Linked DNA regions of Homo sapiens: all the other regions are linked to region 5. The links come from fine-mapping of genetic effects on gene expression. A gene starts in region 5. Each other region holds a variant in brackets. All regions are shown on one strand. Distances are from middle to middle. Region 1 overlaps INSR (insulin receptor). Region 2 overlaps ADGRE1 (adhesion G protein-coupled receptor E1). Region 3 has its middle 26 kb from the start of ADGRE1. Region 4 overlaps ADGRE1 (adhesion G protein-coupled receptor E1). Region 5 holds the start of ADGRE1 (adhesion G protein-coupled receptor E1).

The links.
Region 1: its variant is fine-mapped to the expression of ADGRE1 in CD4 T cells (Kasela 2017, PIP 0.95).
Region 2: its variant is fine-mapped to the expression of ADGRE1 in whole blood (TOPMed, PIP above 0.99).
Region 3: its variant is fine-mapped to the expression of ADGRE1 in testis (GTEx, PIP above 0.99).
Region 4: its variant is fine-mapped to the expression of ADGRE1 in whole blood (INTERVAL, PIP 0.94).

The regions. Positions count from the first base shown.
Region 1 is chr19:7,149,152-7,154,280 of GRCh38, forward strand. It overlaps INSR (insulin receptor), which reads right to left. Exons shown (of 22, transcript NM_000208.4): 10 at 3,575-3,776; 11 at 1,346-1,381. Among named protein-coding and RNA genes, the nearest start is that of ZNF557, 82 kb to the left of the region's middle. The variant C/CTCTT (reference allele first, on the strand shown) is at 2,011.
Region 2 is chr19:6,926,285-6,931,284 of GRCh38, forward strand. It overlaps ADGRE1 (adhesion G protein-coupled receptor E1), which reads left to right. Exons shown (of 21, transcript NM_001974.5): 16 at 82-317; 17 at 1,861-1,927. The region is part of intron 1 of LOC105372256 (a long non-coding RNA gene); the gene reads right to left. Among named protein-coding and RNA genes, the nearest start is that of ADGRE1, 41 kb to the left of the region's middle. RefSeq lists an enhancer at 1-240. The variant A/C (reference allele first, on the strand shown) is at 2,805.
Region 3 is chr19:6,858,960-6,864,088 of GRCh38, forward strand. No RefSeq gene overlaps it. Among named protein-coding and RNA genes, the nearest start is that of ADGRE1, 26 kb to the right of the region's middle. RefSeq lists an enhancer at 4,045-4,184. The variant C/T (reference allele first, on the strand shown) is at 2,552.
Region 4 is chr19:6,938,711-6,943,813 of GRCh38, forward strand. ADGRE1 (adhesion G protein-coupled receptor E1) reads left to right here. Exons shown (of 21, transcript NM_001974.5): 21 at 1,314-1,740. The coding sequence ends at 1,319. Among named protein-coding and RNA genes, the nearest start is that of ADGRE1, 54 kb to the left of the region's middle. The variant G/C (reference allele first, on the strand shown) is at 2,440.
Region 5 is chr19:6,885,483-6,890,590 of GRCh38, forward strand. ADGRE1 (adhesion G protein-coupled receptor E1) reads left to right here and starts at 2,097. Exons shown (of 21, transcript NM_001974.5): 1 at 2,097-2,157; 2 at 4,999-5,061. The coding sequence starts at 2,127. RefSeq lists an enhancer at 2,091-2,150.

The DNA of each region.
Region 1 (5,129 bases), 260 kb after region 5:
CCGCCTCGGCCTCCCAAAGTGCTGGGATTACAGGCGTGAGCCACCCGAATATTATTAATAGCAGGACTGAGATTGAGATCTGCTTTGGACCAAGCCCGTACATTTTTAGACCCTTCTTGGCTACAGTTAGTATTGCAAATGGCCACTAGAGGGCAGATCAGGCCACACAGGTGCCTGGGAAAAAATAAATAAATAAACACTCTGCTAAAGGAAGAAAATCTCTCCAAGTGGTCCCAACTTGCCTCTTTAGTCTCACCTCCTGTTCCTCCCAAAAGCCACGACAGGTAAACATCTCCTTGCCTTTCTCCCAAGTTCTCCAAGCTTTTTCTCTCTCCCAGGACCATACTGCTTCATTCTCTTAAGACTCAAGTTGAAAAGAAACGTCCCTGGCCAGGGGCGGTGGCTCACGCCTGTAATTCCAGCACTTTGGGAGGCCGAGGCGGGCGGATCGCCTGAGGTCGGGAGATCGAGACCAGCCTGACCAACATGGAGAAACCCTGTCTCTACTAAAAGTACAAAAATTAGCCGGGCGTGGTGGCGCATGCCTGTAATCCCAGCTACTCAGGAGGCTGAGGCAGGAGAATTGCTTGAACCCGGGAGGTGGAGGTTGTGGAGAGCCGAGATCGCACCACTGCACTCTAGCCTGGGCAACAAGAGTGAAATTCCATCCAAAAAAAAAAGAAGAAGGAAAGAAGGAAGGGAGGGAGGGACGGACGGAGGGAGAGAGGGAGGGAATAAAGAAAAGAAAAGAAAGAAGGAAAGAAAGAAAGAAGGAAAAAAAGAAAGAAGGAAGGAAGGAAGGAAGGAAGGAAGGAAGGAAGGAAGGAAGGAAGGAAGAGATCCCTGACTCTCCTCCGTGGAATTCAGTGAGCGACACGGTGTTCTTTTGTTCATACCCTGTCGCCCTTTCATGAAAATATTCTGTTTCCAGATCAACCTCCATTCATGGTGTAGGAGCTGCTGGGTCGGGGCACCCAGCCGCGGGGAGCTCAGACTCCGGGGACCCCCACCCACCTCTGCAAATGCACGCGGGAGGTGCAGAGATGTTTAGTGAGCAAACAGTGGCTGCAAACAGAAGGCAGGGAGGGGGTACCCAGGAAGCACTCCCATGATTCTATGTTTTAGCAAGAGTGTGTTAGTGAAGGTTTCTCCCCACATTCATGCCCAGATTTCATTTCAGAGTGAAGGCATTGGATTTCTGAATTGGTGAAGCATCTGCTCTCCAGCACAGCTGCCCGCCGCATGCAAAAAGCCACAGAAACCCCTGGGTTCTCCGAGGCATCTGCCTGGCACGCCGCCGGCCCTGCGCGGAGCAGGCACCAGGGGTCGCACAGGTGAGTCATACCTAGGGTCCTCGGCACCAGTGCCTGAAGAGGTTTTTCTGTGGAAACAAAACCAACGCCTTTGAGGACAGAGGGAACTTCATTAGACAGACCACTGGGCTCTGACACTTGGAGGCCACATGTGTCCGAGTAAGGGCACCCTGGCTTTGACCCTGGACCACTCGCTCCCATCACTTGCTAGACGGAGTGAGCTACATCTTCCCCAGCAGGTGCAGGGGTCCAGCAAGGGAAGGGGAAGAAATCAGAGAAAATTCTCCCCAGAGACGGCCTGCTGAGGTGGCCCTGGGATGTCAAACGTGACTACATGTGGACATCACAACTGACTCAGCCACTTCTCCAAGTCTGGCAGAATTTTTCTTTTCTTTCCCTTCTTTCTTCTTTCTCTCTCTCTTTCTGGTTTCTTTCCTCTTTCTCCTTTTCTTTTCTCTTTCTCTTTTCTCTCTCCCTCTCTCTCCTTCCTTCCTTCTTTCCTCTTTTACTTTCTTTCTCTCTTTTTCCCTCTTTCCTTCCTTCATTTGCTTTCTTTCTCTTTCCTTCCTTCTTTTTTTCATTTTCTTTCTCTTTCTTTTCTTTCTTTTCCTTTTTTCCTTCCTTCCTTCCCTCCTCTCTCCCTCCCTTGCCCCCTTCCTTTCTCTGTCCTTTCTTTCTCTCTTTCCTTTCTTTCTTT[C/CTCTT]TCTTTCTTTCTTTCTTTCTTTCTTTCTTTCTTTCTTTCTTTCTTTCTTTTTCTTTCTCTCTTCCTTCCTTCCTCTTTCCCTCCCTCCCTCCATTCCTTTCTTTCTTTCTTTTTTTCCCTTCCTTCCTTTTTGAGACAGGGTCTTGCTCTGTTGCCCAGGCTGGAGTGCAATGGTGCCATCATAGCTCACAGCAGCCTCCAACTCCTGTGCTCCAGCAATTCTCCCGCCTCAGCCTCCGGAGTAGCTGGGACTACAAGGCATGCACCAACATGTCTGGCTATTTTTTTTTTTTTTTTCCTTTTTTAGTAGAGATAGGGTCTCACTCTGTTGCTCAGGCTGGTCTCCACCTTTGGCCTCAACTGATTCTCCCACTTCGGCCTCCCAAAGTGCTGGGATTACACGAGTGAGCCACTGTGCCTAGCCAACATTTTGTTTGTAACAGGTGAAACAGTAACCACTTTGAAGCCTTGGCTGTCCCCCTGAACATTCTTTTGGACTCAGGGTCATAGGGGAAACATGCAACAAAAAAAGAAAAAGAAAAGAAAAAAAAAAAAGAGGATTCTTACACACTGGTGGTTCTGGGAGAAAAGTCTGCTCGGATGAATAGCATTGGTAAACATCTGAACAGATACTTTTAATTTTTTTTTAGAGACAGGGTCTCACTCTGTCACCCAGGCTGGAGCGCAGTGGCGCCATCATCGCTTATCGTAGCCTCCATCTCCTGGCCTCTTGTGATCCTTCTTTCTCAGCCTCCCCATGGGCTAGGAGTTCAGACATGCATTACCATGCCTGACTAATTTTTAAACTGTTTTTTTTTTTTTTTGGTAGCGATGGGGTCTCATTATGTTGCCCAGGCTGGCCTCAAGCAACCCTACCACCTCGGCTTCCCAACTAGCTGGGACCACAGGCTTACACCACTGCGCTCAGCTAAAGCCTCAATAATCACGGCCAGGCACGGTGGCTCACACCTATAATCCCAGCACTCTGGGAGGCCGAGGCAGGCAGATCACCTGAGGTCAGGGGTTAGAGACCAGCCTAGCCAACATGGCAAAACCCCGTCTCTACTAAAAATATAAAAATTAGCTGGGCGTGGTGCTGCGCACCTGTAGTCCCAGCTACTTGGGAGGCTGAGGCACAAGAATCACTCGAACCCGGAAAGGGTGAGCTGAAATCGCACCACCGCACTCCAGCCTGGACGATAGAGTGAGACTCTGTCAAAAAAAAAAAAAAAAGAGAGAGAGAGAAAAAAAAAAATGTTAATCGTCTAACGGAGTTTGTTTTGGAACTCACGTGGAGACCAGCTCAGGAGAGGTAAGAAAGGCAAATGCTGAGTTTTGTCCATTTTTCCCCTTTTGTGCGATTATTTGCTCTTCCTGATAAAATTCCCCTCGAAATTTCGAAACTGCAAGATCTCTTCCTCCACCCAGGAAAGGGCTCCATTCAGACTCCACCCACCCTTCTGCCGTCTCTGGGTCCCACTACCTCTCGGTCCCTAAGTAATGACCTTCCACCAACACCAAGCCAATTGGCACCCACTAAGAGAGCCCAGCGCCAAGTCCTGACCTGGGGACGAAAACCACGTTGTGCAGGTAATCCTCAAACGTCTTCCTAAACGAGGACTCCTCCAGCTCCTTCAGGATCTGAGAGTCTGTCTTTGGACAGGAGCAGCATTCGCCGGCCGAATCCTCATACTCACTCTGGTTGTGCTTCTGAGAATCTTCAGACTCGAATGGTGGAGACCAGGTCCTCGAGGGCAGCTTCAGCCCTGGAGAAAGAAACAGAAAAGGGGGGCTCAAGTCTCTGCGGCTGAACACACATACACACACACACACACCCCACACACACACACACCACACACACACACCACACACACACACACCACACACCCCCCCACACACACACACCACACACATCACACAACACACCACACATACACACACCACAAACACACAACCACACACACACACCACACACCACACACACCACACAACACACCACACATACACACACCACAAACACACAACCACACACACACCACACACACCACACACCACACACACGCACCACACACACACCATACACGCACCACACACACACTACATGCACACCTCACACACCACACCACACACCGCACACACACCACACAAATCACACACACACCACACACACCCACGCCACACACCACAGACCACACACCACACACCCCACACACACCATACACGCACCACACACACACCACATACACACTTCACACACACCACACACCACACAAATCACACACACCACCACACCCACGCCACACACCACACACACACCACACACGCACCACACACACACACAGTGAAGGGGGCCTTCTCAGAGAGGCTGAGCTGAGACAGAGCCTAGATTTGAGCTCCGCTTTGGAAAAAAGCCAGACACTATGGTTCACGCCTGTGGTCCCAGCTACTTGGGAGGCTCAGGTGAGAGGATCGCTTGAGCCCAGGAGTTCGAGGCTGCAGTGAGCTATGATTGCACCCCTACACTTCAGCCTGGGTGACAGAGTAGAACCCTGTCTCAAAAGATTAAAAATATAGCCGAGCACAGTGGCTCACACCCTTAATCCTGGCACTTTCGGAGGCCGAGGTGTGAGGATCACGTGAGCCCAGGAGTTCAAGACCAGCCTGGGCAATGTGGTGAAACCCTGTCTCTACTAAAAATAAAGTAAAATAACCAATAAAAATAGGCCAGGCAGCTCACACCTGTAATCCCAGCACTTTGGGAGGCTGAGGTAGGCAGACCACCTGAGGTCAGGAGTTCGAGACCAGCCTGGCCAACATGGTGAAACCCCGTCTTTACTAAAAATACAAAAATTAGCCAGGTGTAGTGGCGCATGCCTGTAATCCCAGCTACTCAGGAGGTCGAGGCAGGAGAATCGCTTGAACCTGGGAGGTGGAGGTTGCAGTGAGCTGAGATGGCACCACTGCACTCCAGCCTGGGTGACAGAGCGAGACTCCGTCTCAAAAAAATAATAAATAAATAAATAAAATATCTGTATCTAGAGTGTCATCTGAGAAGTGCATGTCAACATGTTTTATTAGTTTAGTGCATAAGTAATTGCAGCTTTTGCTATTAAAAGTAA
Region 2 (5,000 bases), 41 kb after region 5:
CGAGGAGTCTCTCTCTTCCTTTCTTCCTTTCGATTTCTCTCTGGGGTGGAGGATTCTGATGCGCATGCTTCTCCCCTCCAGATGGGCTGCGCCATCATCGCGGGCTTCCTGCACTACCTTTTCCTTGCCTGCTTCTTCTGGATGCTGGTGGAGGCTGTGATACTGTTCTTGATGGTCAGAAACCTGAAGGTGGTGAATTACTTCAGCTCTCGCAACATCAAGATGCTGCACATCTGTGCCTTTGGTTATGGGCTGCCGATGCTGGTGGTGGTGATCTCTGCCAGTGTGCAGCCACAGGGCTATGGAATGCATAATCGGTGAGTGACATCCTCTCTCTTCCTGAAGACCCTGCTGCCAGGGCTTATGGTGATAATGACATGAGCAACAAGAAGAGTAACAACAGTAGCAGTAGTTGTGGCTACCATTTATCGAGCTCTTCTATTATGTACTATTGGTTTCAGGACCACCATGTACAGCAGCATGGGTTGTGCACTGCACAAATCCAGGATCACTACTATTTGAGGTTTATGTTCCAGGAAGAGAACATCTGGTTTACCTAACTTGATTATTTTCCTTTTCTTGCGTGTATGACATGGGGGGTGGTGGGGGTGAAAGTGGGAAAGGAATACTTCTGCATGGTGGTGTGCACCTGTAATCCCAGCTACTCGGGAGGCCGAAGCAGAAGAATCACCTGAACCCGGGAGGCGGAGGCTGCAGTGAGATGAGATGGCATCATTGCACTCCAGCCTGGGGGACAAGAGCGAGACTTCATCTCAGAAAAAAGTGGGGGGAATATTGGGGTGCTGTTATTGAACATGACGGAATGGTTGTTGTGTTGTAAAAGCAGCTAATGTACACTAGAGACATAATAAAAGGAGCCAATCCTTTCTTCCTCCCTCCCACTCTCCCTCCCTCCCTCCTCCCTTCTTCCTCCCTCCCCTCTTCCCTCCCTCCTTCCTTCCTCCCTCCCTCCCTCCCTTCCTTCCTTGCCTTCCTTCCCTTCCCTCCCTCCCTCTCTTCCTCCCTTCCTCCCTCCCTTCTTTCCTTCTTTCCTTCCTTTCTTCGAATAAACAATTTTATGAAATATCTTGTCTATGCTAGGCTGTGCTCTGAGTGCTGAGTATTCAGAGATGAACAAACACCTAAGGCCCAAATTCTCATGAAACTCATAGTCTAGTAGTGGAAGACAGTTTGCAGTTACACAAGCAATTAAACAAGGTAACTTACGATAGTGATAGCTGCTGTTTTAAAAATGCAGTGAGCTCTGCTAGATGGATACCAGGAGCAGAGACAGGTTGCCCTATCTAAGGATAGTCAGGAGTGGCTTCTCAGAGGAGGTGACATTTGAGCTGAGATTTATTTATTTATTTATTTATTTGTTATTTATTTATCTTGAGACAGAGTTTTGCTCTTGTCACCCAGGCTGGAGTGCGGTGGCGTGATCTCAGCTCACTGCAACCTCCACCTCCTGGGTTCAAGCGATTCTCCTATCTCAGCCTCCCAAGTAGCTGGGATTACAGGCGTGAGACCCCACGCCCGGCCTGAGCTGAGATTTGAATGATAAGGTGTACCAGTGGAGAGTTCTGCATAGAGGGAAACAGGATTACAAAGTTGTGAATTGGGAAATGAGCTCAACCTTGGGCACTAGGTAAACATTTCAGGTACATTTGCCCAGGAAGAAGGTCTAAAAGAGGAAGCGCAGTGATCTAAAGGAAACTGAACTGCAACCGGGACCATCCTGAGCATCATCTGAGTCTCACCTCCCAGTGTTCTCCTCCACTAGGGCATTTGTTGGGACAGGGTTAACTGTAAGGTCAGGACTCTGAGACAAGCGCTGACTCCTCCTATTTCTCTCCACAGCTGCTGGCTGAATACAGAGACAGGGTTCATCTGGAGTTTCTTGGGGCCAGTTTGCACAGTTATAGTGGTAAGCAAATACTACAACAGCCTGGCGAAGTGTGTTCTGAAGGAGGAGCAAGGAGACCTGCGAGATCTGGAATTTCCAGGGACGTGTGCAGCTGAGAGGGTCACTTATTCCCATCAAAAGTTCTCCTTTCCAGGCCGGGCGTGGTGGCTCACGCCTGTAATCCCAGCACTTTGGGAGGCTGAGGCGGGTGGATCACCTGAGGTCAGGAGTTCGAGAACAGTCTGGCCAACTTGGCGAAACCCCATCTCTGCTAAAAATACAAAAAATTAGCTGGGTGTGGTGGCGAGCACTTGTAATCCCAGCTACTTAGGAGGCTGAGGCAGGAGAATCGCTTGAATCCAGGAGACATGGAGGTTGCAGTGAGCCAAATTCATGCCACTGTACTCCAGCCTGGGCAACAGAGTGAAACTCCGTCTCAAAAAAAAAAAAATAAATAAATAAGTTATCGGCCAGGTTGCGGTGGCTCATGCCTGTTATCCCAGCACTTTGAGAGGCCCAGGATCACTTGAGGTCAGGAGTTCAAGACCAGCCTGACCAACATGGAGAAACCCCATCTCTACTAAAAATACAAAATTAGCTGGGTGTGTTGGCACATGCCTGTAATCCCAGCTACTCAGGAGGCTGAGGCAGGAGAGGAGAATTGCTTGAACCAGGGAGGCAGAGGTTGCGGTGAGCCGAGATTGCGCCATTGCACTCCAGCCTAGGCAACAAGAGCAAAACTCCATCTCAAAAAAAAAAAAAAAAAGTTCTCCCTTCCAATCCTTCATTCTTGAGATTTCGAAGTTACAGAGTAATTTCTTTGACTTGGGAATTTTGTTTTTCCTTCTGAAAGGCAAATACCCCTGGGAGGGACCATAATTGTATCCGTCTTGTGCAC[A/C]GGTCCATGAGTCTCTCTGAAGCAGTGTCATTGTCTGGGGGTAATAATGCCTGAGGTTCGTTGCCTCATGCTAAGGAAATCAAGGACACAGACACACACAAGGAGTGAGTTTAAGAGCAGAGGTTTAATAGGCAAAAGAAAGAGAAAGGAGACTAGCTCTCTGTGTCTTGCAAGAGAGAGGGCCTCCTGAGTGGGACTTCTGGCCCGCAGCAAAGTGCAACAGATTTTAGACTGGCTTGAGGGGGCGGTGTCTGATTTACATAGGGCCCAAAGATTGGTTGGACCCAGTGTGACATTTACGTAGAGCGCGAGGAAGCTGGCCACCCACCCTGATCTTTTATTATGCAAATGGGGTCTTTACTTGGCTGGCACCATGTTGTCTTCTCCTTACTGTCTACATGGTTTACAAAGAAAAGGGAAGACGGAGCTGCCATTTTTTTTTTCTTTTTTTTTAGACGGAGTCTCACTCTGTCACCCACGCTGGAGTGCAGTGGTGCAATCTCGGCTCACTGCAACCTCTGCCTCCTGGGTTCAAGCAATTATTCTGCCTCAGCCTCCCGAATAGCTGGGATTACAGGCACGCACCACCACACCCGGCAATTTTGTATTTTTAATAGAGATGGGTTTTCACCACGTTGGCCAAGCTGGTCTCAAACTCCTGACCTCACGTAGTTTGCCTGCCTCGGCCTCCCCAAGTGCTGGGATTACAGGCATATGCCACTATGACCAGCTAATTTTTGTACTTTTAGTAGAGATGGGGTTTCACCACGTTGACCAGGCTCCTAACCTCAGTTAATCCACCTGCCTCAGCCTCCCAAAGTGCTGGGATTTCAAGCGTGAGTCTCTGCGCCCAGCCAGAGCTGCCATTTTGAACATGCCTATTCCCCAGGTAACCGCTTTCCTATTGGCACAACTGCCAGCATTCACCCATGCAAGCTTCTAGCTTGCCTTTCTATGTCTATAGCTCGATTCTACCGGCTGCTCTCCATTAGAAAAGAAAATGATTTGGGAGCTGCTTTTCATTAAAAGGAAAACCTTACCGAGGACTTCCTTACCCTCACTATCTGCCTAAATAAATCTTTTTTAAATCCTATGTCATCTCCTAGGCACAGATGTTGAATGAAAGAAAAAGTAAAAAGAAATTAGGAGGAATTGTGGGGGAAGGAGTGAGATGACAGAGGGAAATGGTGGATCGAGGCAAAGGGAGGCCAGGGAATGTTAAACACCCATCTCTTTGCCTCCCAACCTCCATCCAGACTTGACAGCCCTGCCAGATGATGATTCTTCTGACTCTCACTCATGGTGGCTCATTCCCTTATGTCTTTTGTCATATTTTTCGAGGATTAAATTTTTTTTTATTTTTAATTTTTGTGGGCACAAAGTAAGTGTATATATTTATGGGGTATATGAAATATTTTCATACAGGCACAGAATACATAATAATCACATCAGAGTCAACGAGGTATCTGTCCCCTCAAGCATTTGTCCTTTGTGTTACACACAATCCAATTATGTTCTTCTGGTTTTTGTTTTGTTTTATTGTTTGGTTTATTTTTATTTTTATTTTGAGACAGAGTCTTGCTCTGTCACCCAGGCTGCAGTGCAATGGCATGATCTCAGCTCATTGCAGTCTCTGCCTCCTGGGTTCAAGCGATTCTCCTGCCTCAGCCTCCCGAGTAGCTGGGATTACAGGTGTGCGCCACCACGCCCAGCTAATTTTTTGTATTTTTAGTAGAGACGGGATTTCGCCATGTTTTCCAGGCTGGTCTCGAATTCATGACCTCAGGTGACCCACCCGCCTCGACCTCCCAAAGTGCTGGGATTACAGGCATGAGCCACTGTGTCCAGCCTCTCCTGGTTATTTTTAAATCTACAATGCAATTATTATTAACTATAGTCACCCTGTTTTGCTAACAAATACTAGATCTTATTCATTCTTTCTATTTTTTTGTACCCATTAACCATCCCCTCTTCCCTGTTCCCCACCCACCCCTTCACTATCCTTCCCAGCTTCTGGTAACTGCTGTTCTACTCTCTAGCTCCATGAGTTCACCTGTTTTAAATGTTTAGCTCCCACAAAGAACTGAGAACATGTGAAATGTGTCTTTCTGTGCCTAGTTTCATTTGTAATGTTTACTTGACTGATCTAAGTCTTGGGAATGCTTGAAATTATATTCCTCCACAGAGGTTTTGTGC
Region 3 (5,129 bases), 27 kb before region 5:
CTGACCTCAGGTGATCCACCCGCCTCGGCCTCCCAAAGTGCTGGGATTACAGGCGTGAGCCACCTCACCTGGCCATTTTTTATTTAATAGTCTTTATTAATTATTAAAATTGCAGTAAAATATACATTACATGAAATTTATTTTCTTAAGCTTTTTTTTTTTCTTTTTTTTTTGAGACGGTGTCTTGCTCTGTCACCCAGGCTGGAGTGCAGTGGTGCGGTCTCAGCTCACTGCAAGCTCTGCCTCCTGGGTTCACGCCATTCTCCTGCTTCAGCCTCCCGAGTAGCTGGGACTACAGGCGCCTGCCACCACACCCGGCTAATTTTTTGTATTTTTAGTAGAGACGGGGTTTTGCCTTGTTAGCCAGGATGGTCTCGATCTCCTGACCTCGTGATGCACCCGCCTCGGCCTCCCAAAGTGCTGGGATTACAGGTATGAGCCACCACGCCTGGCATTTTTTTTTTTTTTTTTTTTGAGATGGTGTCTTGCTCTGTCACCCAGGCTGGAGTACAGTGGCGCAATCTCGGCTCACTGAAACCTCCGCCTCCTGGGTTCAAGTGATTCTCCTACCTCAGCCTCCCAAGTAGCTGGGATTACAGGCACCCGCCACCACACCCGGCTCATTTTTGTAGTTTTAGTAGAAACGGGGTTTCCCCATGTTGGCCAAGATGGTCTCGATCTTCTGACCTTGTGATCGACCAGCCTCGGCCTCCCAAAGTGCTGGGATTATAGGCGTGAGCCACTGCGCCCAGCCCTTAGACTTTTAATGCTCATAAACTAAGATTCAGGATCTCCAAGGAAGATTTTGAAGTTCAAAAGCCAGGGAGGCTGAGGGCAGAGGATTGCTTCAGGCCAGGAGCTCGAGACCAGCCTGCACAAAATAGTAAGATCTTCCTCTCTACAAAAAAAAAAAATAAATAAAAAAATAAAAAAAATAAAAAAATTAGCTCTGCATGGTGGCACACAACTGTAGTCCCAGCTACTCAGGAGGCTGAGGTGGGAGGATTGCTTGAGCCCAGGAGGTGGAGGCTGTGGTGAACTATGATTGCACCACTGCACTCCAGCCTAGGCAACAGAGTGAGACCTCATCTCTAAAAACCAACCAGGCCAGTCACAGTGGCTCACGCCTATAATCCCAGCACTTTGGGAGGCCGAGGCGGGCAGATCACTTGAGGTCAGGAGTTTGAGACCAGCCTGGCCAACATGGTGAAATCTCATCTCTACTAAAAATACAAAAATTAGCCGGGCGTGGTGGCAGGTACCTGTAATCCCAGCTACTTGGGAGGCTGAGATAAGAGAATCACTTGAACCTGGGAGGGGGACGTTGCAGTGAGATGAGACTGCACCGCTGCACTCCAGCCTGGGTGACAGAGCAAAACTCCATCTCAAACAAAAACAAAAACAAAGAACAAAAAACAAAACAAAGCAAAGAAACAACCAAGTAACCAACTGACCAACAAAAGCCAGGGAGTTGCTTTTTGGGTAAATCTGCAGGCTGCTAGCATAACCCTTAGGAGGCAAAAAGATGGGCTGGCCTAAGCTGACAGGGCTGGGGAAGGATCATGGGCTATAAATTAATTTGGGAAAAAGTAGTTCATACTTCCAAATATATTACCCTACCATACTACTAACAGAGGCACCTCCCGTGTCAAGTATTCAGTGTTGTCTGGCGCCATGAAAGTAAGCACTTCCTACACAGTATCTAGATTAATCTCACAGCCAGCTTCGTGGTATTTTATCTTATTTTATTATTTATTAATTTATTTTTGAGATGGAGTCTAGCTCTGTCGCCAGGCTGCAGTGCAGTGGTGCAATCTTGGCTCACTGCAACCTCCACCTCCCAAGTTCAAGCGATTCTCCTGCCTCAGCCTCCCGAGTAGCTGGGATTACAGACACACGCCGCCACACCCAGCTAACAGTTGTATTTTTAGTAGAGACACAGGGGTTTCGCCATGTTGGCCAGGATGGTCTCGATCTTCTGACCTCGTGATCTGCCCACCTCAGCCTCCCAGAGTGCTGGGATTACAGGCGTGAGCCAACTGCAACCGGCCGGGTTTCTTTTTGTTGTTGTTGTTTTTTTTGTTTTTGAGACGGAGCCTTGCTCTGTCGCCCAGGCTGGAGGGCAGTGGCGCGATCTCGGCTCACTGCAAGCTCCGCCTCCCGGGTTCACGCCATTCTCCTGCCTCAGCCTCTCGAGTAGCTGGGACTACAGGTGCCCGCCACCACGCCCGGCTAATTTTTTGCATTTTTAGTAGAGATGGGGTTTCATCGTGTTAGTCAGGATGGTCTTGATCTCCTCGCCTTGTGATCCGCCCGCCTCGGCCTCCCAAAGTGCTGGGATTACAGACGTGAGCCACTGGGCCTGGCCAGTTTTTATTTTTATATGAAATAGAGCATAGTGGTCAGGGCTCCAAGAGATTCTAAGGTCCTCTGTGCCCCTGTGAAATTAGCTATAAAGTTTTGGGAAAGACTTCGCCTCTCTGAACCAGAGAAAGATAAAATCAGCTCGCCACAGGCAGAGAGTCGGTATGCACCTAAGCACAGAACCACG[C/T]TCTTAACCGTCACTCTAGTGCCGGGTGGGGATCTTGGTATATCCTAGCTCTCTCTGCAACCCCAGGTAAGCCAACGCCTAGATGGTACCTGCACACACCTGGCCAGGTGCAGGATATAGCCTCTGAAGCCTGGAGTGAAGTGTTTTTCATGTTTGAGGAACCATGAATCTAGAAATGGGTGTTGGAGGAAGCAATGCAGTCACAAGGGATCAGGAACTAGGACGGGGGGTTTCTGCCCCTCCCGTGACTCCCCCAGAGTCACACCATGAACCTACCTATGGCCTAAGGTGGCTACCTGGGCTGTCTAGTTCAGGGTGTTGGTGAGGTTGAGGTCATGGACTTGTTCTTGGAGTTCCTGGGTGGCCCTCACCTTCAGCCCCAGGCTGTGTGAATGACTCAGGCGCAGACCTGCCTGAAAAGCACGTATAATCCAGTAGGGGACTTAACAATCAACCAGGCAATTATAACACAGAGTTGATGAATTTCATAAGGAACACAGGTGGCTGTGGGAGCAAATACAGATCTAACCCAGGCTTGAGTAGGGGAGGATGGTCAGGGAGGGCTTCCTGGAGGAGGAAACATCTAAGGTGGCAACTGTATAATCAGCTGGATGGAGTCACCTAGAAAATAAATGAGGGGACAGCCTAGCACGGTGGTCCATGTCTGTAATCCCGGCACTTGGGGAGGCCGAGGCGGCGGATCACTTGAGGTCAGGAGTTCGAGACCAGACTGGGCAACATGGTGAAACCCCCATCTCTACTAAAAATACAAAAATTAGCCGGTGTGGTGGCAGGTGCCTGTAATCCCAGCTACTCGGGAGGCTGAGGTAGGAGAATCACTTGAACCTGGGAGGCAGAGATTGCAGTGAGCTGAGATTGCACCACTGCACCCCAGCCTGGACGACAGAGTGAGACTCAATAATAATAATAATAAATAATGAAGGGAAAGTTTTTTAGGGAGAGGGGCAAATGATAGTGATCCTGGTAGGTTCTGGAAACTTCAAGGGGCTCATTTTGCTTGGAGAGGGAGGAAAGTGGGGGTGGGGTGGGTGAAAAGTTGTTGGGAGACCGGGCGTGGTGGCTCATGCCTATAATCCTAGCACTTTGGGAGGCCGAGGCAGGTGGATCACTTGAGCTCAGGAGTTCGAAACCAGCCTGGCCAACATGGTGAATGTACAACGGACAGCCCCCAATACAGACAGACAGACACACACACACACACACACACACACTCACTCACTCCTACCCCCAGCCCTAAGAATTTACAAACACTGATAAAGACAAATGAAATCAGCGGATATAGACTTCAAACGCCGTCAGACAGACACCCACTAGATCAAACAGGGACATTCCTAAACATCACACAGACACATCGCCAGGCAGTCCCACCGCAGACAGCCACAAATTAAAGCCGCGCTTGCCCCCTGATGGACAGCAGCAGTAGTGCGCCACCTCGATAGCGCAATCTCCCAGAGCGCTGGCATTGCAGGCGTGAGCCAACGTCCGCAGCCAAACACGTTCATATTGTTGAGAAGGCAGAGAAATACAAAGTAGGTGGAAGGGTCTCCACCTACAGCTGTTTTCTGTGGTCTGAGGATTCTTCCCACGTCTTTAATTTCTAGTGCTTTCTAGGGGTCTCAACTTGAACTATTTAATATTTTCTGGAAGAGAAACATTTTTTGTGGGGGGGGCGGGTGGGGGTGGGACCGAGTCTCGCTCTTGTCTCCCAGGCTGGAGCACAGTGGCGCGATCTTGGCTCACTGCAACCTCCGCCTCCCAGGTTCAAGCGATTTTCCTGCCTCAGCCTCCCGAGTAGCTGAGATTACAGCGCCCAGCTAATTTTTGTATTTTTAGTAGAGATGGGGTTTCACCATGTTGGCCAGGCTGGTCTCGAACTCCTAACCTCAGGTGATTCGCCCGCGTCGGCTTCCCAAAGTGCTGGGATTACAGGCGTGAGCCACCGCGCCCGGCCCAGAGGAACTTTTTTTTTTTTTTTCCAGAGGAACATTTTTTATCCAAAGGAATGACTCCCTAATGGTGGAATTCCAGGCAATGAAGTGAGGCGCGAGGCAGATTGTCACATAGGGAGCTGTCATATTTCATGGGTACCATTCACGCAAGGCGGGACTTGTTCTTAGGCAGCCAACACTTCCGCATTGTCCTGGCATTTGAGCCGCGGAACCAAGTTCCGCGTATCTTGCCCATTGTAACCCCACAGCACCAATTTGAAGCTATGTAGTGCCCTCTGGTGGCCTTCGGTGATTTGGCTTCAGTGTCTCAAACTCTCTGATTAGACTGTTTCCAAAGAGAAGGCTGTTAGGGGGCCTCAGAAGTCAGGTTTGGATGTTTGAGCTCTAAGCTGCAGGATTTGGGGAGCCGTGGTGTGGGGGTGATTTATTTATTTATTTTTGAGAAAGAGTCTCACTCTGTCGCCCAGGCTGGAGGGCAATGGTGTGATCTTGGCTCACTGCAACCTCCACCTCCCAGGTTCAAGTGATTCTCCTCCCTCAGCCTCCCGAGTAGCTGGGACTACAAGAGCCCGACACCACGCCCAGCTAATTTTTGTATTTTCTTTTGA
Region 4 (5,103 bases), 53 kb after region 5:
AGGATCTCAGTGTTAAGCCTTGCAGAAGTCCAGTGAGGTAGGTATCACTGCTCTATTTTCTTTTTTCTTTCTTTCTTTCTTTCTTTTTTTCTTTTTTTTTTTTGAGATGGAGTCTCGCTCTGTAACCCAGGCTGGAGTGCAGTGGTGTGATCTTGGCTCATTGCAACCTCTGCCTCCTGGGTTCAAGCGATTTTCCTGCCTCAGCCTCCCAAGTAGCTGGGATTACAGGCGCCCGCCAGCACACCCAGATAAATTTTGTATTTTTAGTAGAGACAGGGTTTCATGATGTTGGCCAGGTTGGTCTCGAACTCCTGACCTCAGGTGATCCACCTGCCTCAGCCTCCCAAAGTTCTGGGATTACAGGTGTGAGCCACCACGCCCAGCTGGTCTATTTTCATTATGAGGAAACCGAATGTCATAGAGGTTAAGTCCAGTGATTTCAGAATGAGCCACAGGAATCACCCCACTGGAAAAATTGCCCATATCATGGATGACATATTCTCTTGGCAATACATTTTTAAACATAATGCAGTTTACTATAGTTTTAATGAAAAAGACAGTATAGGTATAGAACATTTTAGAAAACATTTGTAAGCATTGAAAACAAATAAAATTTCCCATTATCCCACCACATACAGATCCCAGTGAGTCATATTTTTGGATGCAAGCACCTTAGATCCAGTGGCTTAATTAAATAGGGAAATGATTTTCCTTGCAAGAAGTCCAGAATTAGGTGTTGCGAATATTGCTGGTGTTGCTGGTTCTATGCTTAGTGGTGTTGTAAAGGCTCTAAACTAAGAATCTGGGTTTTCCCCAGTTTTCCATTCCACCATCAACATGTTGACATTTTATTGTATTTTCATGGTTGCAATATGGTTGCCACAGCTCCAGACATCATGACTATGTTCAAGTCAAGAAGAAGAGGGATGGACAGGACCAGAAAGCCCTTCTTTCATGTCTTTGTCTTTAACAGTAAATGAAAGCCCAGAAAACTCTCAGATTTCCCTTTACCTAATTGGTCAGAAGTGTATCATGTGACCACTCATATGGGCAAAAAATTTTGAACCAACAGCTGTTTGGCTTCCTAAAGTCCAGAGTGGGCGCTGTCAATGCTGAGGAGGTTGAGAATGGCTTTTGGGTTTTCCAACTCTGCCTGCCACACTAGGGACAATCGCATTTAACATTTTAGTGTTTATCCTTCTAGTCTTTGTTACTGTATTTTTAATACTTCTGTCCCTGTAGACATGACCCTTGGAATCACGTTTGTATTAATTCTGCTGCAGACTCTGAGGAAATTCTTTTCTCTCTCACAGGGTTAAAGTCCTTTCTTGCTTTCAAATATGCTATGGAGCCACAGTTGAGGACAGTAGTTTCCTGCAGGAGCCTACCCTGAAATCTCTTCTCAGCTTAACATGGAAATGAGGATCCCACCAGCCCCAGAACCCTCTGGGGAAGAATGTTGGGGGCGGTCTTCCTGTGGTTGTATGCACTGATGAGAAATCAGGCGTTTCTGCTCCAAACGACCATTTTATCTTCGTGCTCTGCAACTTCTTCAATTCCAGAGTTTCTGAGAACAGACCCAAATTCAATGGCATGACCAAGAACACCTGGCTACCATTTTGTTTTCTCCTGCCCTTGTTGGTGCATGGTTCTAAGCATGCCCCTCCAGAGCCTATCATACGCCTGATACAGAGAACCTCTCAATAAATGATTTGTCGCCTGTCTGACTGATTTACCCTAGGATAAAGACTCTTTGTGATTTTAAAGAAATGGTCAGTAAAACTGTAATGAGAGTCCCAGGGAACCAAGACGGCACATAGACAGATAAGCTACTTTGGCACAAACACTTAAAAATAGTTGTGTTGGTAAGTAGGGGGATGTTTGATGTAGCAGAATTCTAGCACTCCCTGGAGGGTTGAAGCACTTGGTGACAACAACCTTTGGAAAGTGCTTTGGTTTCCTGAGGTCCTTCAGGTAACCAAGACCTCCCTGTTTTCTAGAAACTTTCTAATGACTTGGCTAGGATTTAGGATTTTCTCTATCACAGTTATCGCTACCTATCCTTAATTTTTTTTTTTTTTTTGACAGAGTCTCGGTCTGTTGCCCAGGCCAGAGTGCAGTGGCATGATCTCGGCTCATTGCAACCTCTGCCTCCCGGGTGCAAGTGATTCTCCTGCCTCAGCCTCCCAAGTAGCTGGACTGCAGGCGTGCACCACCACGCCTGGCTAATTTTTGTATTTTTAGTAGAGACGGAGTTTCAGCATGTTGGCCAGGCTGATCTTGCACTCCTGACCTCAGATGATCCACCCGCCTCACCCTCCCAAAGTGCTGGGATTACAGGCATGAGCCACTGCGCCCGGCCACCATCCTTAAATTCTTGAGCTTGGGAGAGAAGAAGATGAAGGTTTAAATGCAGGTATTTTCACTTCTATGGGCACT[G/C]TAAAACCTCCCAATCCAAAGCGTGGTCCCTGGATCATCAGCATCACCTGAGAGCTTGTTAGAAAAGCAAAGAAGAATCTCAGACCCCACTCCAGACCTCCTAGATCAGGACTTGCATGTTAACATCCCCAGGGGATGAATATAACCATGGGTGTCTGAAAAGCACTATTGTAGAACATTCTTCTGTTTGCCATGCTGACAGCAGAGCTTGTCTTTAAAGCCAGAGAGAAATGTCTTCTTCTTGACTTGGACCCTTTGCATCTTCTCTTAGAATAACTTCCCTGAAAACTCAATTGATGTCTTCTGTCTCTTTGAGTTGCAGTGTAGTCATCCCCTCTGCTAGGAAGCATTCTTTGAATCTCCTACAGTAGAATTTGGCATTATTTTTGTGTGTGCCAAAAAGCTTCATGCTTTCTCACCCTGTATTATGATTTCTCTTTTTGTTGGGTGTCTCCAACATAGACTGTGAGCTTCGTAAGTACAGAGATTTGCATTAAGTAGCGTCTCAACAAATATGTTGAATGAATGAATGAATGAATGATTAGAATGATTACTCTTCATTTTGAAGACAGGGGAACTGAAGCTCAGAGAGGTTAAGTGACTATCCCAGGATCACACAGCCACATAGGTCGTTGAGCTGGGTTTTGAGCTCTTGACCATAAAGCTCCTTCTCCAGATGCCTTGTTCCCCTTTTTCTCTTCCTTTCGTGCCAGGAATACTTAGTTTAGGGTTACAGAGACTAGAATAATATTTACTCTGAGTCACCTAAGCAGTTAGGATTCAATTAGCTCAGTCATATCATGCACTGGACAATTTGTTAACAATATTAAACTCAGTTGATGGAGGCTCTGTCTTTGTTATTCTTGGCAGCCTAACTTGGGAGGTGGGACACATGTTTGTGAACAAGAGTTCATCTATGATAAATTAGTCTTCAACGCTTGGCTTATCCAGAGTGCTCAATACAGAGGTGATAGTTCTTAGAGAGATGGAAGCAAGAGATGGCACTGCTCCTATCCATAGCCAATTGTCATAGGTCAATGGCATCAATGGGCCCAATAATGGTCTCCATTTAGCCACATCCCTTTCCTGTAACTTTGTAACTCTCTCCTTGTCTGACTCTGGGGTTGGACTTGAGATTTGCTGCAGCCAGTGGAAGGTTAGGAAATGTGACTGGAACGTAAGTTTCAAAATCGTATGTGTAATCCTTCTTACCAGTTACACGATTACATTTGCTCACCTTGCTTCCTTACCCCCACCATGTGAACATGCCCAAGCCCGCCTGCTGGAGGGACATGAGAAACACAGAATGAAGGGTAAGTCACCGCAGTTACACTGGTGGAGGTTGTCCTCAGCCAGCCACCATGCCAACTTGCTGCTTTAATCACAGGAGAGAGCCCAGCCAACATCAGCAGACCTGCTCAGCCAACCCATAAACAGACTGAGGAGCAGCAAGAAAGTATCATTTTTCAGACACTGAGTTTCAGGAGTTATTTGTTATGAAGCATTTATTTGTAGCAATTGCTGATGGATACAACAACCAAAGTATGGTCAACATTCTGCATTGGACTGCAACAATTTGGAATGTAAAAAGAAAGAATTTTGATCTCAATTTCTTCTGAGATATCAGGATAATAAATTCTGTACTACTTGAATAAAGTTTTTTCCTGAGAGAAGATTTGCCTAAGGCTTTGTCTGTCTGTACAACGGTGTTACATGTTGGTCTGAAATATAGTCACCTTAAGAAGCTCTATATTTCTAAGGTAAGTGGATAAAGGTGTGACCTCCATGCAGGATTTTTTTCGTACTACACACATCAAGCTATACTTGGTACATTTTTTTTACCCTTGTGGTCTCATATGTCTCCGCTAGAGGGAGAAAGGAGACAATTAAAAAAAAAATGCGGCCCGGCGCGGTGGCTCACGCCTGTAATCCCAGCACTTTGGGAGGCTGAGGCGGGCGGATCACGAGGTCAGGAGATTGAGAACATCCTGGCTCACCCGGTGAAACCCCGACTCTACTAAAAATACAAAAAAATTAGCCGGGCGTGGTGGTGGGCGCCTGTAGTCCCAGCTACTAGGGAGGCTGAGGCAGGAGAATGGCGTGAACCCGGGAGGTGGAGCTTGCAGTGAGCCGAGATCGTGCCACTGCACTCCAGCCTGGGTGACAGAGCGAGACTCCATCTCAAAAAAAAAAAAAAAAAAAATGCATGAGTAGAAGAAATACGTTCTGAAGTTCACTGGTAGAGTAGGGTGACTATTGTTAGCAACACTGTATTGCATATTTCAAAATATCTAGCAGAGAAAACTTGAAATGTTTCCAACAGCTAGAAATGATCAATGATCAAGATGGTGGACACCCCAAATACCCTGTCTTTATCATTGCAAACTCTGCATGCAACAAAATATCACATGTACCCCATAAATATGTACAGATATTATATATGGAAAACCCTAAGTGGCTGCAAATCCCATGAATATAATGTGAAATAACTTTGCTATCTTATAATCCAAATAATTGTGTACAGAAAATTACAGATCCATTCACTCAAAAAATATTTATTGGCCGGGTGCTGTGGCTCACGCCTGTAATCCCAGCACTTTGGGAGGTCGGAGCAGGCTGATCATGAGACCAGGAGATTGAGACCATCCTGGCTAACACGATGAA
Region 5 (5,108 bases):
GCCAGGTAGAGACCCCATCTGCATAATAAAATATTAGGGTGGGCAGCCAGCTTCTTTGTACTCTATGTAAACGGCACACCTGGTCCAACTAATCTTTGGGCCCTTATGTAAATCAGATATCACCACCTAAAGCTCATCTATAAAACCCCGTGCATTTCACCATGAAACTGGAAGACCCACTTGGGAGCCCCCTCTCTTTGCAGGAGAGAGAGCTTTTCTCTTTCTCTCGCCTATTAAATTTCTTTTCTTTCTTTCTTTTTTTTTTTTTTTTTGAGATGGAGTCTTGCTCTGTCACCCAGGCTGGAGTTCAATGGCACAATCTCGGCTCACTGCAACCTCTGCTTCCCGGGTTCAAGCGATTCTCTTGCCTCAGCCTCCTGAGTAGCTGGAATTACAGGCATGAGCCACCACACCTGGCTAATTTTTGTATTTTTAGTAGAGATGGGGTTTCACTATGTTGCCCAGGCTGGTCTCAAACTCCTGATCTTAGGTGATCCACCCGTCTCAGCCTCCCAAAGTGCTGGGATTACAGGCATGAGCCACTGTGCTCGGCCTAAACCTCTGCTCTAAAAGTAATTTTTTGTGTGTCTGCATTTTATTTTATTTTATTTTATTTTATTTTATTTTATTTTATTTTATTTTATTTTAAGACAGAGTCCCACTCTGTTGCCTAGGCTGGAGTGCAGTGGCACGATCTCGGCTCACTGCAGCCTCCGCCTCCTGGGTTCAAGCAATTCTCTGCCTCAGCCTCCGGAGTAGCTGGGATTACAGGTGCCTAACACCATACCACACTGGCTGATTTTTTGTATTTTTAGTAAAGACGGGGTTTCCCCATCTTGGCCAGGCTGGTCTTGAACTCCTGACCTCGTAATCCACCCTCCTCAGTCTCCCAAAGTGCTGAGATTACAGGTGTGAGCCACGGTGCCCGGCCATGTCTGTATTTTCTATTTCCTTGGTGTGAGGCAATGAACCTCGGGTATTACCCCAGATGGATGACACTGCTTCAATATCTGCCAGTCACTACACTTTGTTATCAGTGGGATTACATCAACTGGAGCCCATTCTATCTGCTTGGAGGCCAGGCCTGAAGATTCAAGGGGTTGACACCCTCTAGGAGCAAGCCTCAAGTCAACCCATGACTGACAGTAGGTGGGATATAAATACCTCAGCTCCCTCACCCCTCGGTTGGAATAACTGAAGAGTATGTTCCATGCCGCTCCCCAGTCATCCCTGGGGAGGTTAAGTTCCACTTTCTCACCATGTAACTTATTTGAAGACACACCCAGTATTGGCTCTTTGCCTTTCCTGATTCACTTTCTCCTCCCCCAGCTGGTGCTTTCTGGGGCCACCTTCTTGATAAACTACTTTTGCTAGAATCCTTGTCTGAGGGTCTGCCCTTGTGAGACCCTAAGATGTTACCAGAGAGAGTTAGGAAGCTGGGAATGGGGTGGAAGTGTTGCTGTATAATCGTCAGACAGAGTTGAGATCTGAAGGAAAATAAGATGGTTAAAGCTCTTGACTCTGGAATCAGAGGGTCCTGGGTTCAAATCTCAAGTCTGAGAGATCTTGGACAAGTTATAACTCCTCTGCAAGTCTCAGTTTCCATTTTGTTGGTGAATAGAGGGAGGGAGGGGAATTCCTACTTTACAAGGTTAACATGATAATGAAATTACACTTTGTTGCCAATGTGCCTAGCACACTGCCTGGTACATGATGGTTGTGATGGCTGTCTTTATACGGGAGACTGGGAAGAGACCCTAAAGGCTGAGATTTGCTTCACTGGAGGCAGGAAGCGGAAGCTCCTTTATTGGGTGCAATGAAAGAAGGTGTTGAGAGATGGGAGATAGATGTTGATGGGAAAGAAAAAGGGAGAGACCATGGGAAGGAGAGAGAGAGAGAATGATATACATTAGGCAGATTAACTTCTCTTTATTGTGAAGAAAGGGGGAAATTAGGATTTTCTAGGCTGTCTTTTAGTTGCAGCAAGTCAGCAAAAAGGGCTATGATGACCAGGCAGCATTGAGCAACTCTGACTCCGCCTTCCCCTCTTCGCACACCTTCTGGTTACTGAAAACCCAGCGTTAGTAGAAAAGTTTCTTTTCTTTGAATGACAGAACTACAGCATAATGCGTGGCTTCAACCTGCTCCTCTTCTGGGGTGAGTGTGAGGCTGAATGGGGGGCTAGGGGAGGCCTGGATTGGAAATAGACTTCAGGAGAAATGGGAGGGCCATGGATGGTCCAGCCAAGAGATCATAAGTCCAGACTGGATGCTGCAAACACCTTCATTCAGGGAACCTTTGACAAAATTCCATAGCTCAGGGAAGTCCATCTGTTAGGATAGATTTTTCTCTATAGTCATTCATTTGACCTGAGCAAGTCCTGTGTGTCAGGTGCTGTTCTAGGCACTAGAGGATATAGCAGTGAGAAAAAAAGACTAAGTTCCTGCACTCTTGAGGCTGATATTCTAGTGGGTAGGAGCAGACAGGAAAGAAGGCACAGATGATCATAGCCCACTTAGCACTGCTGTAACTTCTTTAAACATAGAGTGTATCCAATTGTCACAACATTTCTATGACATTGGGTCATTATTAGTCCTATTTTGCAAATGAGAAAACTGAGGCAAAAGAGATAAAATAATTTTCCCAAGGCCACTTAGTCAATAAGGGGTAGAGGCAGGATTTCAAGCCAGACAGTCTGACTTCAGAGTCTGTAAGCTTTTCCACTATACTATGTTGCCCCAAAAAATAAGTAAACATAGGAATTTCAGGTAGTGATAAGTGCTATGAAAGAAGTTGTTATAGAATGTGGTCGGGAGTTATGTTGAAGGGAGAAGTCTGGGGTTGAGGAGGGGCAGTTCGAGCTGAGTCCTGAAGGATGAGATAGACCCTTCCTGTGCTCTTATTTCTCTTTCTTCAGGTGTCAGTTTGTCTCAGCCTTGTTTATCTTCTGTGTTTCTGGTTTTTCTTCTATGTCTTGTGTGTTTTGGTCATTGGATCAAATTTAAGAATGGAGGATATTGGGGACATATTCTAAGTAGCAAGTATGGGTTTCCTCTGCTGTTGAAGAGTGGATCTGAATACCCTATTTTACCAAGGAGGAAACTGAGGCACAAAGAGATTAAATAACTTCCTCAAGGCCACGCAATCATTAATTGGTGAAGCCAGATTTTTAAACCTAAGCACTTTGACTTCAGACTTTGTATGCCTAAACAGCATGCTGAATTACCTCTAAAATAATTAATGAATGAGTAGAAGAATTTTTGTTAGTAATAATAGATAGAATTTGGGAGTTTAGATCTGTGGGACTTGTTGACTGGCAGGCTACATTAGAAGAAATAGGTGGCCTGTGGACATCAAATGTAGGCATGCAGAGTTGTTATTTTGGGGTGTTGGCAATGGTATTAACCATTAACACTCCCTATTCTGCCCTGAAGATAATCAGCAAAGAGTTGTGATAATGATAGTGATGATAATGATCATGATGGTGGTGGTTATAATAGTGATGATGAAAATGGTGATGATGATGGTGATGGTGATGATGATGATGATGATAATGGTGATGATAGTGATAATGAAGATGATGGTGATGATGATGGTGTGATAATGACCATGAAGATGGTGATGATGGTGATGATGATAATGGTGATGATAGGGATAATGATGATGATGGTGGTGATGATGGTGTGATAATGACGATGAAGATGGTGATGTTGGTGATTATGGTGGTGATGATGATGATGGTGGTGATGGTGATAATGGTGATGGTGATGATGATAATGGTGATGATGGTGATAATAATGATGATGATGATGGTGATGATGAAGATGATGATGGTGATGATGATAGTGATAATGATGGCGATAATGATGATGGTGCAGGAGACCTAAATGCTGCAGGGCTGCATTGCCTTTAAACACTAAAAAATGGGCAGGGCGCAGTGGCTCACGCTTGTAATCCCAGCACTTTAGGAGGCTGAGGCAGGCAGATCATGAGGTCAGGAGATCGAGACCATCCTGGCCAACATGGAGAAACCCCGTTTCTACTAAAAATGCAAAAATTAGCTGGGCGTGGTGGTGCGTGCTTGTAATCCCAGCTACTCGGGAGGCTGAGGCAGGAGAATAGCTTGAACCAGGGAGTTGGTGGTTGCAGTGAGCCTAGATCACGCTACTGCACTCCAGCCTGGTGACAGAGTGAGACTCCATCTCAAAAAAAAAAAAAAAAAAAAAAAGGAAAGAAAAACGAATTGCCCTACCCTCTCATGAAATGTTAATACTACAGATATACTGTATACCTATATATGTATTTTCTATATATACATATGTATCTTATACATAAAAGAGTAAGCTTAAAAAGATCTCTTCCTGAGAACCAAGTTTGGGTCCTTAGAGGATATATCACCCCTTTTGAGAATGCATGCTTTAATGTATGTTTTTGAAAATCAGCTAGAACTTTTTTTTTTAGACAGGGTCACCTAGGCTGGAGCGCAGTGGCATGATCTTGGCTCACTGCAGTCTCTATCTCCTGGGCTCAAGCAATCCTTCCACCTCAGCCTCCTGAGTAGCTGGGGCTACAAGTTGTCACCACCACCCAGCTAATTTAAAAAATTTTTTTTTTGTAGAGACAAAGTCTCACTGTGTTGTCCAGGCCGGTGTCAAACTGCTGGTCTCAAGTGATCCTCCCACCTTGGCCTCCCGAAGGGCTGGGATTATAGGTGTGCACCACAGTGCTTAGCCTGGAACTATTTAATCAAAAAGAAAAAGAAGATAAAGACAGACAAAATGAAAAGCAAAAGCAAAGTACAGAAAACCAGGAATGGTCATTGTTAAGCTTATGCAAAATAGTGTATGTTTGTTCCTTAACTAGGTTTGTCATCTAGCCTCTTCAAACCTATTTCTGTGGGGCCAAGCCAGGAGTAATTTTGCAGGTTGAGCCCAAAAGGTTTTTTTTTTTTTTTTTTTTTTTGGTGGTTCATGGTGTTTTTCTTTTCTTTCTTCACAGGATGTTGTGTTATGCACAGCTGGGAAGGGCACATAAGACCCACACGGAAACCAAACACAAAGGGTAAGTTGGCCAGAGAGAATGCAGATGCCTGAAGGGGTAGAGAAAGT